2 linked regions of the Homo sapiens genome follow. The protein of the gene in region 2 interacts with the protein of the main gene of each other region in a pairwise test. Each region holds a gene or a part of one and is shown on either strand. Other genes may lie near its edges.

Evidence for each region.
Region 1: the proteins of ZNF622 (region 2) and MELK interact in a two-hybrid assay, tested with the Homo sapiens proteins (one study listed by BioGRID).

What each region holds. Positions count from the first base shown.
Region 1 is NC_000009.12:36,574,632-36,583,699, reverse strand, and holds part of MELK (maternal embryonic leucine zipper kinase), read right to left. Parts: intron 3,628-9,068; exon of another isoform or gene 2,829-3,627; intron 2,057-2,828; 5' UTR 2,019-2,056; coding exon 1,961-2,018; intron 74-1,960; coding exon 1-73. UniProt on the Homo sapiens protein: Serine/threonine-protein kinase involved in various processes such as cell cycle regulation, self-renewal of stem cells, apoptosis and splicing regulation. Has a broad substrate specificity; phosphorylates BCL2L14, CDC25B, MAP3K5/ASK1 and ZNF622.
Region 2 is NC_000005.10:16,451,019-16,455,800, forward strand, and holds the end of ZNF622 (cytoplasmic 60S subunit biogenesis factor ZNF622), read right to left. Parts: intron 2,139-4,782; coding exon 1,995-2,138; intron 767-1,994; coding exon 639-766; 3' UTR 501-638; downstream 1-500. UniProt on the Homo sapiens protein: Pre-60S-associated cytoplasmic factor involved in the cytoplasmic maturation of the 60S subunit.

The DNA of each region.
Region 1 (9,068 bases), on a different chromosome or scaffold from region 2:
TTATCCATGATTTTTATAGCTACCATCTCTCCAGTAAGGATATGGCAGGCAAGTTTGACCTTTGCAAAGCCACCTAAGTAGGAAAATGTATTATGAAAGCATAAGCAAGGACTCAGGCACAAACACCTTTTTATATATAATAATTTTAAAAGACTCTATCAAGCCAAATTTTCCTAGAAGTTTGTGGCTTTTTTTTCCTGTTGCTGCTTGTTATCCAATGTCTAGCTGAAGGTTTTTTTTTTTTTAACCATGATAGTGTATCTCAAACTTTGTAATAAAAAAAAAACAGAACTCACTTTAGAAATCTGCTTTATGAATAATCCTGCAATTAAATTTCCTTTATAATTAACACTGCTAGAACACAATATAAAGTTGCTGAGGCCAAAGACAAATTATATGAAACTTCCACTCAGTTTTAAATATTTGAGGCCGGGCGCGGTGGCTCACGCCTGTAATCCCAGCACTTTGGGAGACCGAGGCGGGCGGATCACAAGGTCAGGAGATCGAGACCATCCTGGCTAACACAGTGAAACTCCGTCTCTACTAAAAATGCAAAAAATTAGCCTGGCATGGTGGCGGGCACCTGTAGTCCCAGCTACTCGGGAGGCTGAGGCAGGAGAATGGCATGAACCCAGGAGGTGGAGCTTGCAGTGACCCGAGATCGCACCACTGCACTCCAGCCTGGGCGACAGAGCAAGACTCCATCTCCAAAAAAAAAAAAAAACTTTGAAGATAAGCAATTATTTTTCAAAACTGAACCAAAAGCTGGACAAATGTCTCCACTCAGGCAGCTAAAAGAAATCCCCAAATTAACATTTCCAAAAAGAACTTCCTAGTAGTCTCTCCCATGGTCTTCTTCCTTTCAACAAAGGGCAACTCCATTTTCCCTGGTGCTCAGGCCAAAAACCCTGGAACCATCCTTAGCCCTTCTCTTTCTCTAGCACTCCAACCCATCAATAAATCCCATTAGCTCTGTCCTCAAAATATATCAATGGCTACCTTGGGGGAAAGCAGGCAGATACTCCCTGGAAACGGTCTATGTCTTGATCCGCACAGGGAATATATGGGTATGTGTATACATATATATGTGTAAAACTCCACTGAGATTATTGCACTTTGCATATTTTACTATATGTTATACCTTAATAAAAACATACACACATAGGTGTGTACATATGTGTGTGTAAAATGTCCCACCCCTTTCACTGCTTTTACATCACCCTCATCCACACCACCATCATCTCTAGCATCAACACCTGAATTATCGCAATAGTCTGCTAACATCTCCCTGCCTCTGCTCTTGCCCTCCTTCATCCAACCTTTTATCTACCAAGCAGCCACAGCAACTCTGTAAAAACAAAGGTCAAATTACCCCTTAACTCAAAACTCTCCAATGACTTTAATTTAGAATAAAAGTCAAGAAATAAAAGAAGCCTGGGCGCGGTGGCTCATGCCTGTAATCCCAGCACTTTGGGAGGCCGAGGCGGGTGGATCACGAGGTCAGGAGATCGAGACCATCCTGATTAACACGGTGAAACCCCGTCTCTACTAAAAATACAAAAAATTAGCCAGGCATGGCGAGCGCCTGTAGTCCCAGCTACTTGGGAGGCTGAGGCAGGAGAATGGCGTGAACCCGGGAGGCAGAGCTTGCAGTGAGCCAAGATCGCGCCACTGCACTCCATCCAGCCTGGGCGACAGAGTGAGACTCCGTCTCAAAAAAAAAAAGAAATAAAAGAAATATTTAGAATAAATTATTTAGAATAAAAGTCAAAGTCCTTGCAATAACCTACAGGGCTTCTCCTACTATTCTCCTCTCTGCTTGCTCCACTTTTTCTTACTGAAGTAGGTAGAAGAATTTTAAAACTGTGTGGGTTAGACGAAAAAGCTCACACCTACCCAAATAATCTATACTCTCAAATAGTTGATCTATCCACTGCCTCCAAAAAAAAATAACAATTACCTGTCCCAATAGTTTCATGTAATTCATAATATTTGAGAAGTTCATCATAATCTTTCATAGTCCTCTTGCAAGTTTATTTGGAATTAGAAAAAGAACCTAGAAGACAGAGAGTACATAATCAATAAAGGAAATAATACCGGATCATCTCCTCCATTCTTGTAACTGCAAATCTAAATAAGTCTTATGCATTTACATGATACTGAAAAAACTGATTATTGGCCATATGAAAAAAAGGATTCTTATCTCACACCATACATAAAAATGAATTCCAGATAGACTTAAAAAGTATGAAACATAAACCTTTAAAACTTTTTAAAGAATATTGTCATTATTTCAGGATAGGAGAGGATCACTTAAATAAAGTACTAATAATAATAATGAAAAAAATTAATATATTAAACAACATTAAAATTAAGAACTTCAGCTGGGCACAGTGGTGCGTGTGTTGTCAGCCACTTGGGAGGACAGCTTGAGCCCAGGAGTTCGAGGCCAGCCTGGGCAACATAGCAAGACCACATCTATAAAAAAAATAAAAATAAAACTAAGCACTTCTATACAACCAAAGACACCATCAAAAAAAGAAAACCATAAATGTGAGAAGATACTTGCAACAAATATAATAGTGGATGTACACAGGAAACACATAAACTCTGACAAAACAATAAGAAAAACTCAACAGCAAAATAAGCAAATGATACAAAAAACTTTTCTCAGCCGGGCATGGTGGCTTACGCCTGTAATCCCAGCACTTTGGGAGGCCAAGGCAGGCAGATCACGAGATCATGAGTTCGAGACCAGCCTGGCCAACATGGTGAAACCCCATCTCTACTAAAGATACAAAACATTAGCCAAGCGGGGTGGCATTCACCTGTAATCCCAGCTACTTGGGAGGCTGATGCAGGAGAATCGCTTGAACCCGGGAGGTGGAGGTTGCAGTGAGCCGACATCGTGCCATTGCACTCTAGCCTGGGCGAAACAGCCAGACTTTGTCTCAAAAAAAAAAAAAAAAATTTCTCAAAGAAACACAAATGGCCAACAAAAACATGGAAAAGGGTGTCTCTGAGCCTACTCTGGCTCGGGAGGCTACCTGAAGAAAAAATAATTTAAAAAAAAAAGACACGAAGCTGGGCAAGGTGGCTCACACCTGTAATCCCAGCACTTTGGGAGGCTGAGGAGGGTAGATCACCTGAGGTCAGGGTTCGAGACCAGCCTGACCAACATGACGAAACCCGTCTCTACTAAAAATACACAAATTAGCCAGGCATGGTGGCAGGAGCCTGTAATCCCAGCTACTTGGGAGGGTGAGACAGGAGAATCACTTGAACCTGGGAGGCGGAGGTTGCAGTAAGCTGAGATTGTGCCATTGCACTCCAGCCCGGGCAACAAGAGTGAAACTCCGTCTCAAAAAAAAAGGCCGGGTGCGGTGGCTCACGCCTGTAACCCCCACACTTTGGGAGGCCGAGGCGGGTGGATCACAAGGTCAGGAAATGGAGACCATTGTGGCTAACATCATAAAACCCTGTCTCTGCTAAAGCTATAAAAAATTAGCCAGGGGTGGTGGCACGCGCCTGTAGTTCCACCTACTTGGGAGGCTGAGGCAGGAGGCAGAGGTTGCAGTGAGCCGAGATCACGCCACTGCACTCCAGCCTGGGCAACGGAGCGAGATTCTGTCTCAAAATAAAAAAAAAAAAAAAAAAAAAAGAAGACATGAAAAAATTATCAGTAGTCATCAGGAAAACCCAAACTAAGACCCCAGTCATACACAATTTTATTATGTATATGATATGTATTTTATTATTATGCTTCACAACTTATGTGGGTTACATATACTGTTAATTATACATCAAATAATAAATAAAAATTAGTTGTAAAAAAAATTAGGTAGATCTTATTGATTTTGTCTCCCTGAGTTTTAAAATTAAGTAGTTTATTTTTTAAAAACCATAGAGCTAAGTAGGGCCCTGTTATGCACATTAATATACAAAGTCACACTCATACCATCTCCATCTTACTTGTGGAAAATAACCTCGTGGTTGACTTTTAGAGATCAGCAGTGTGTCTGGAAAAACTGCTAATGCAGTTCTAGAAAACTCTTGAATTTGCTCTTATTCATTTATTCATACAGATATTTACTGAGCACCTATGATATGCCAAACCTGCCCTTGGCACTAGGGCTATAATGGAGAAGAAATATGATTCTGCCCTCATGGAGTGTATATTCTAGTGGAGAAGACAAAAGGCAAATAAGTAGACAACAAATTAATACTTATAATTTATAGGCCGGGTGCAGAGGCTCACGCCTATAATCCCAGCACTTTGGGAGGCCAGGGTGGGCGGATCACGAGGTCAGGAGTTCGGGACCAGCCTGGCCAACATAGTAAAACCCGGTCTCTACTAAAAAATATAAAAATTAGGCTGGGCGCGGTGGCTCATGCCTGTAATCCCAGCACTTTGGGAGGCCAAGACGGGCAGATCACCTGAGGTCGGGAGTTCGAGACCAGCCTGACCAACATGGTGAAACCCCGTCTCTACTAAAAATACAAAATTAGCCAGGTGTGGTGCCACATGCCTCTAATCCCAGCTACTCGGGAGGCTGAGGCAGGAGAACTGCTTGAACCCAGGAGACGGAGGTTGCAGTGAGCCGAGATCGTGCCACTGCACTCCAGCCTGGGCAACAAGAGCGAAATTCCATCTCACAAAAATAAATAAATAAATAAATATATAAATAAATTAGCCAGGCCTTGTGGTGTGCGCCTGCAATCCCAGCTACTCGGGAGGCTGAGGCAGGAGAATTGCTTGAACCCAGGAGGCAGAGGTTGCAGTGAGCCAAGATCGTGCCACTGCACTCCAGCCTGGGAGACAAAGCAAGATTCTGTCTCAAAAAATAATAATTACTATTATTATTATCTATACTAAATACTGAAATAAAAATAAGCAACAGTGGTTTCTGAGAAGGTAACATTTAAGCCAAGCTCTAATTCAAAGGATGAGAATTGAGAAAATCAGCCCTGCCAGTAATCAGACTGTGATATTCCTATCAAAACTTGAACAATGGTTTCAATAGAATCTGAACATAACCATATAAACAATGTTTCCATACAAGGCTGTTAAAATAAAGATCCTTTATTTGACTGACTTCATTGTCTTCAATGACATCCTCAGGCCCACCTCATTCTTCCCTCATTCTGCCCCTTTCAACTCACTCTGAGACTACCCAAAATTCTCAAGAGTATGGTTTCTCTTGCGCAGCAAACTAAATACATCTAATGATTTTTACTACAGATGTGGTCTTTGGTCTGTAGGCCTTAACAGTCATAGCCCACAAAGAAATAGACGGAGAATATTCCAGAAAGAGGGAATTTAGGTGCAAAGATCCTAGAGGAAGTAAAAGTTGACAGGTACTGAACTGAGGCTGCTTTTAGAGGTAACAGGTGATGGAAATGCAGCTCTGGAGCTGGGACAATTGATTAGCCATGAGGTGAAGGAAAAAAAAAAACACATTGGATCTCTATCTCACACCATACAAAATCAGTAACAGTTGTAAAGACTTAAAAGCAAAAGACAAATATTTGAAATGTTGAAAACATAGATAGCTAAGGTCTTCCCCATACCAAACCTACAGCTAGGAGTGGCAAAAGGAAGAAGCGTAAAGATAGCTGGGCATGGTGGCTCATGTCTGTAATCCCAGCAATTTGGGAGGTCAAGGCAGGAGGATTGCTTGAGGCCTGGAGTTCAAGACAAGCCAGGACAATATAGCAAGACCTTGTCTCTACTAAAAATAAAAAACAGCCAGGCGCAGTGGCTCACACTTGTAATCCCGGCACTTTGGGAGGCTGAGGCAGGCGGATCACCTGAGGTCGGGAGTTCAAGACCAGCCTGACCAACATGGAGAAACCCCGTCTCTACTAAAAATATAAAAAATTAGCCAGGCGTGGTGGCCCATGCCTGTAATCCCAGCTACTAGGGAGGCTGAGGCAGGAGAATCACTTGAACCCGGGAAGCAGAGGTTGCGGTGAGCCGAGATCATGCCACTGCACTCCAGCCTGGGTAACAAGCGAAGCTGTGTCTCAAAAAAATAAATAAAAATTAAAAATTAAAATCTAGTCGAGGCCAGGTGCAGTGGCTCACGCCTGTAATCCCAGCACTTTGGCAGGCTGAGGTGGGTGGATCACTTGAGGCCAGGAGTCACATGCCACCACTCCTGGCTAGTTTGTTTGTTTGTTTGAGATGGAGTCTTGCTCTGGTGCCCAGGCTGCAGTGCAGTAGTGCGATCTCAGCTCACTGCAACCTGCGCCTCCCAGGTTCAAGCTATTTTCCTGCCTCAGCCTCCCAAGTAGCTGGGACTACAGGCGAACAACAACACCATACCCGGCTAATTTTTGTATTTTTAGTAGGGATGGGGTTTCGCCATGTTGGCCAGGCTGGTCTCAGACTCCTGACCTCAGGTGATCCACCCTCCTTGGCCTCCCAAAGTGCTGGGATTACAGGCGTGAGCCATCGCCCTGGCCAAGCAAGCCTGTTTAAGCCTCAAACTGATGAGTGGCAGGTGCCACGTAAACTACCTTCAAATTCTCTGTTCTTCACCCTGCCCTTATCCAGAACTGAGTGACTAGCATGTTACTAAGCCTTAATAATGGCCATGAATTTGGAAGACCTAGAGTGTGAGTTCAACCTCAGAAGTGTGGTGAGCTTATAAAGGAAGACAGAGCTTAATAAGAGAAGGCCCTTCATACAATGATGAGTAGTCTTCTTAAAATTGAGGTGGAAAAAATTCTGAATGAACTTATCAAAACCCCAAAAGCCACAAAGGACATTTTAAAAATATCATTTTTCTATGCCTGAAACACTGATTCCATGAATCATTTTACTTGGAGAGAAAAAGAAAATTATTATCAGCAAGTAAAAAACGGCTGGGCACAATGGCTCCCGCCTGTAATCCTAGCACTTTGGTAGGCCAAGGCAGGTGGATCACCTGAGGTCAGGAGTTCGAGACCAGCCTGACCAACATGCAGAAACCCCGTCTCTACTAAAAATACAAAAATTAGCCGGGCGTGGTGATGCACACCTGTAATCCCAGCTGCTAGGGAGGCTGAGGAAGGAGAATCGCTTGAACCCAGGAGGTGGAGGTTGCAGTGACCCGCGATCACGCCACTGCACTCTGGCCTGCACGACAGGAGTGAGACTCCAGCTCAAAAACAAACAAAAAAAATTTGGTCAATGAATAGAAAACTAGAGCAGAAGCTTTAGAAGGAAAAATATCGACACTCAAGAAAAAAATTAAATCAGCTTTAAAAAACAAGGTTCAGTCTTCAACATCAAAGCAGAAATAGCACACAAAAAGATAACATGCAAAACGACATTCTGATAAAATAAACAATATTAAGCCATTTCCTAGGAAGAGATCACACTGGACCCAACTTAATAAGTAGGTTGAACATTTAACCTAACGAAATCTGCATGAACACAGTAGGCAAACATTAGAAGAAGCAAGGTCAGGTCCCAGTACTGAGGGAAAACTGTTGATAGAAAATGAAACATTCTGCTTCCACTGGAGTAGAAAAAGTTACTCAAGGCAAGGAGATATCACAGAGGACAAATTTATTCTCACTGGGCACCTGAAGGCACAGGATTAAATACTTTAAACAGCAACACTAATTCAGAAATATTTTAAAGGGCATTTGTCAGTGGGGCAAATGTGGGGATAAACTGGAACCTCATCCTAAAAACAAACAGGAACCATAGGACTAAGAAATTCCAAAAGGCAATAAAAACAGTAAAAGTATAGAGGTCAACCTAAGGCTCAGAAATCTTTGGAATCCTGATACAGAAGAAAAAAGAGAGCAGGAGAATGGAAATGGAGGAACACTGGACTATAAATCTGAATGCACATGTTTACATTCCATGCAAAGGACTGGGCTATTTCAAATTGTCACTCAGAAAGAGAAAGCAATTTGTAAGATGCTGGAATTCACTTCCCAGATTAGGGATTTAAGAGTGTCATAATTAACTTAATAGACTTCTCCCAAAAGAGTTATAAACATCCCAGTCATGGCCTCTGGAAAACTAGCAGAGATGGGCAAGTTGTTTATTTAACAACTAAGGTAAGACTGAAGCCATGCACTTTTTTTTTTCTTTCTTTCTTCCATTTTCTCTATCTACCCGCTTCTCTCAAATTACATCATGTCTTTGGATGAGTAATACCAATGTGGGCCTAGATTATAGCTACTGAATCAAGGGAATATCGTTGTTGCTGCAATGTGAGAAAACTGGTGCTTACATTACAAACTCCTACACTAATAGCAGATTATACTTGATTTGTAAATCTTTGTGAATGTGGAGCTGGTTCTAAATATTCTCATGTGCCCTGTTTATCCTCTAGAGTTTGTTAATATAGAATACAGAAAAGCCTTGAGAACAGAGTAACCCAACTTTGTAGCTGCTGAAGGAGGTATATTATCAGTCAACGCGGAAGACAGCCTCTCAACTGTGAATAATGAAGAAGGAAATTAGACCCCAATCAGACACCTGAGTGCCCTTCTGGGCTTGACTAAATAAATAGAAGAATTGGGGGTATATATAATTGGGTTTTGTTTTTGTTTTTGTTTTTGAGACGGAGTCTTGCTCTCTTGCCCAGGCTGGAGTGCAGTGGCGTAATCTCGGCTCACTGCAACCTCCGCCCTCTGAGTTCAAGCAATTCTGCCTCAGCCTCCCAAGTAGCTGGGATTACAGGTGTGCGCCACCACGCCCGGCTAATTTTTTGTATTTTTAGTAAAGATGGGGTTTCACCATCTTGGCCAGGCTGGTCTTGAACTCCTGACCTCACAATCCATCTGCCTCGGCCTCCCAAAGTGCTGGGATTACAGGCGTGAGCCACCGCGCCCGGCCTATAATTGGGGTCTTTAACTTCTCAGAAGAGCAAGGAATTGGGATAATGAGAAGACGTTTATGGTTAAATTTTAAAGGATAGCAACAAATTGGGGGCATTTTTTAACAATATTATTTGGGCTATTCTATTACTTGCCGCATAAATACATTTACCTTATCTACAGAGCTTGGAAAGACACTGATGCTGAGGATAATTTCAAACAGGAAGTAGAATACAGAATGG
Region 2 (4,782 bases):
AGTCTTTCTAAAATGATACCTAAGCATTTTACCTTTACTTTCCTCCTAGACTAACTGCACCACTGGAAACTGCATCAGACTACACAGTAGTCACTCTGTGCAGTCATGTTTAGAAATATAAAACCTTTACAGCAAGCTATTGATGTGCTTTTTAACTTAGCCTGGATTTAATGCAAGCGCCCAGAGATATTCAGTACCTCCTGTACCATGATACATTCCATGAGTGACATTCAACTTTGCCCCTACATAAGCCTTCAAGCCCCCTTACATAGGTCCCAGTGCCATGACATGGTGAGTTACTCTCAAAGTTAAACTAAGTTTGGGGCACACAAGTCATTCCTGATTCCTCACATTACTCTGACAATCATAAATCATTTAAAGCTGAGGCGATGAAGCAACTGTCAGGCAGCAGTGCAAGTCCCAGGGTCCAGTAGACACAGGACTTACCTTGTGAAAACATAACCTTTCAACACTATTCAAAAACGACATCTGAAAACTCATATGGTTCTAACTTTTATTATTAGGTCAGAACGAATGAAGTAGCAGCAAAAGGGTCTCTCCTATGATCTGTCTTTCACTGGTCCTCAGGGCAAGGAGGAAACTTGGGCAGGAGATGATTGCTCAATCCCAGCAGACTCTCAGAATCTCACTTGGACCCGAAAGTGCATCTGCTTGGTGGCATTGTTCTTCATTCCTGTCTTCAGCATCCATTTTGATTTCATCCTTTGGACATACTGCATGTCTCGCTCTCGCATAAGAGCCGCTCCTATGATTGGAAGGCAGTTAAGAAATTAGGCAAAGTTCTGTTATTTGTGATCAGAGAAAATCCAACCTTGGCAGAGAATTCAAAAGGTTAGTTTGGGGTAACTAGGTTCTTGTATTTAAAACAGAGTTGCTAACTTGGGGTCTCTAAGCCATGCGCCTCAGGGGTCTCTGTGGACTCCAGAATTGCATACCAGAACTTTTGTATATATACACTTATCTGGGATTAGTAGCTTTAGTTTTCATCATCTGGAAGAGTTTATAAGCCCAAAAGGTAAAGCCCCATTAATCAGAAAGGCAGAAGCTATATATCGAGTCAGACAATACTTCCTGATAAGAGTAAGATGAAGTCAAGTCTCTGCCAGATTCAAGTGGCCACACAGCTCACAAGCAGCCACAGTGAAGGAAACCACATATAAACACAGTGCCTTTTCAAATGGATTTTAGTTGCCTAGAGCTTCCCAGGCCATCAGAAGGCAGCCCGCCTCTTATTTTCTCCACAGTCCTCAGTTGGATAGATGCTTTCCCTGAAGATCTAAGGATATAACCAGCTTCATCCAGCAGACACATCAGAATAGATGTAAAGAGTACCATACTGATGAGGTTTCAAAACTCAACAATTGCAGTGGCATGCTTTACTCTTCTAACTTTTGCTAAATTTTCTATGGGAAAATTACAAAAAAGGGGACTGATAGCTAACCTCGACTATGGGCATGCACTATATCACACATGCATGACATTCAACCCACTCAACTCTAAGAGGTAGGTCTTATTACTATCATCTCTGTTTTATAAATGAGGAAACAGAAGCTTATATTAATTAAATTACTCATGTTCATCATATAAGAACCTCTAAGTACATCACATAAGTCACGTCTGACTCCACAGCTCAAGCTATTAACCACTAGGATACTATCTAATTCCTCTGCATAACCTCCAGGATAATTTCAACCTTTGGTGATTACTAAATAATTCTTTTTGTAACTATTATCTTCTGAAAAAGTTAATGGTATATAAAATCACTGTGCCAGGAATATGAAATTTCTAAGTCATAGCACTTTGGGCTTATTGCCTTAAACATATCAAGTGGTAATGGAAGTCCCTGGAGCCAAGACGTTACGTTTCCCCTAGAGAGAATCCACATGGACAACATAAATGGAAACAACTTTCCCCAGACCCCTTCTAGAAATACAAGTTCTCAGACTGGTCTGTAGTTGTAAAGATCAATGTACCTGTGCTGCCAGTCCATCCCAGGGCTCTGTACTGCTGAAGTACTCGGCCCACGGCCTTCCGATTTTTGGCAACTGCCACAGCTCTTGACAAGCCAAATCGCTGTTTGTAGTATCTCATCAAGGAGCGATGACCCACTCTGGCACCTGTTTTTCAAAAGAGCAATACTGAAACACTGAGTTGGATAGTTTTTTCAAGGCAGAGCTATAAAGCAAGGGCTTTCCAAATCAGATCTTTTAGTATATCTAGATGGAAAATCGATGTACCAGAAGAAACAGTTGTTCTATCTACTAAAGACAGATGAAGCAGCATGTAAAATAAAAATAAAAAGTGAAAGAAAGCAAGCATGCAACAAAAAGAAAACCAAACAATAGATTTTTTAAAAAGAAAATGACAAGTCACTGTTAAGTGAAAAACTTAGCATTGTGTACTTACTTGCATACAATATGCCTCCCCAAAAATTCACATAGAAACCCCTACTAATACAGATAATAGGGGCCTAGGAGATAAGAGATTTTTAGCGTTTTATATATATAAATAAATAAAAATTATATATATATATATATATATATATATATATATATATATATATGAAGAAGATTAAGCACAGAGAGCAGTTCTGATGTTTGGGACTACAAGCCACAGTCAGGATCTAAAATAGAAATCAATCCACCTTTCCTTTGCTTAAACTCTCTATTGCAGTGATTCTCCAATGGGGATTTTATCCAGCAAGGGACATTGGGCACTGACTGAACACATTTTTGGTTGTTACAGCTAGAGGGGTACTACTGGCACCTAGTGGGTAGAGGCCAGAGATGCTATTAAACATCTTTACATGCACAGGACAGCCCCCCATAACAAAGAATTATTCAGTCCAAAATGTCAATAGTGCCAAGGCTGAGTAACCCTGACCTATTGCTTCCTAAATGATGGAAATCACCTGGTGAATATGAATTTTAAAAGGTGATTAAGTTGAATTCTGTCTATAGCTTTTGCTTATTTAGTAGGATCTGGTAAAACTATGTGAGTCAATCATGCTTTCAGAAATGAATTTCTAAATTTAATTTTCAAAGTATGCTGATGTTATTACAACACGATTGTATATCTCATTATCTCATAGGCCCACTAACTTGTAACAGAGTGAGAAAAAAGAAAATAGACTCTGAATATTTCAAATAAAAAAACTATGGGACAGGGCCGGGTGCGGTGGCTCACGCCTGTAATCCCAGCACTTTGGGAGTCCTAGGTGGACGGATCACGAGGTCAGGAGATCGAGACCATCCTGGCTAACACGGTGAAACCCCATCTCTACTAAAAGCACAAAAAAATTAGCCGGGCGTGGTGGTGGGCACCTGTAGTCCCAGCTACTCGGGAGGCTGAGGCAGGAGAATGGTGTGAACCCGGGAGGCGGAGCTTGCGGTGAGCCAAGATCATACCACTGCACTCCAGCCTGGGCAACACAGCAAGACTCCGTCTCCAAAAAAAAAAAAAAAAAAAAAACTATGGGACAAAGGTATTGGCCACCAATTGGAAATTCTGTAGCTGGAATAATAAAAACCTGAGGTAAGTAAAGATATCTACTGGAGGAACAATTCAAGGTTCTTATTTAAGGGTGAGGCACATCTGATATATTAATCTAGGGGTGGCAAACTACAGCCAGAGAACCAAATCTGGCCAACCGCCTGTTTTGGTTTGTTTTACTGCCACACAGCCACGCTCAACTGTGTAGGTATTATCTCTCGATGCTTTGGTGCTTGCTACAACAGCAGAGGTGGGAAGCTGCTGCAGAGACAGAATTGCACACAAAGCCTAAACGATCACCTCTGGCCCTTTCTAGGGAAAATGTCCCAACCCATGTGTCATAAGTTCAAGGGAGATGACCTGAAGGGGGCTGGGTTTAGAGATGACTAATTCCAGGCTCCCTCAGAGCAGTGGCTCTCCAAAGGTGGTCATCAGCATTGCAAAGCCAGTGTCATCAGCATTACCTAAAAGCTTACTAAATACACACTATCCTTTCACAAGAATATTAATTAGGACAAAAGTAATCAAATATCTTCCCAGACAGACATAACCATGCAGATATTTAACAACAGCATATACATAAGGCACGAAAAAGCCATTTCCACTGAAAATGAATAAAGGATAGTTGGCTAGGTAGAACCCTGTGTACGGTTTCCAGGAAAGATTTATATTTACCTAGGTAAAGCCATTTCTTTCAGAATCTTTTGTGTAAAAAGACCATGAACCAGATACTATAAATATTGTGGAAGTCTGTATTTGCTTTTAGGATCCAGACTTTCAATTTGCATAAGAAAATTATTTTGGTTATTTTAAGTCCCTATACCTGCCAAAATAACTGGAAAATAATTTGCTTGATACACAGATATGGAAAAGTAGTTACTTTCAGTTGCTTGTTTTATCATCATACTCAAGAGATGACAAAAAGAAGCTTTCGATTCAAAGACATGGTCTTTGGATACTAGTGTGGATAAAAACATTTTCCCTAAACCTGACTGTTTTGACAGCATAAGAGTTAACAAAGCTCTTAGACCACAGGAAATAGGTGAGATGTAGTTGATGGATAAAACACAAGCTTAAATGGAGGGTCTACAGGAAATTCCAGCATTGTTCACTGTGATGTTCTATTTGTAACGTTAGGTCTGGACGCTCCAGGTTTGCAAGGTGATAATGTTGGTCATTAGTACATAAGAATTCAATATACTTATATTCTTAAGCAACATGTGGAAACACATCCTACAGCACGTTGGCCTTTTAAAGCGTCTTTGAAAT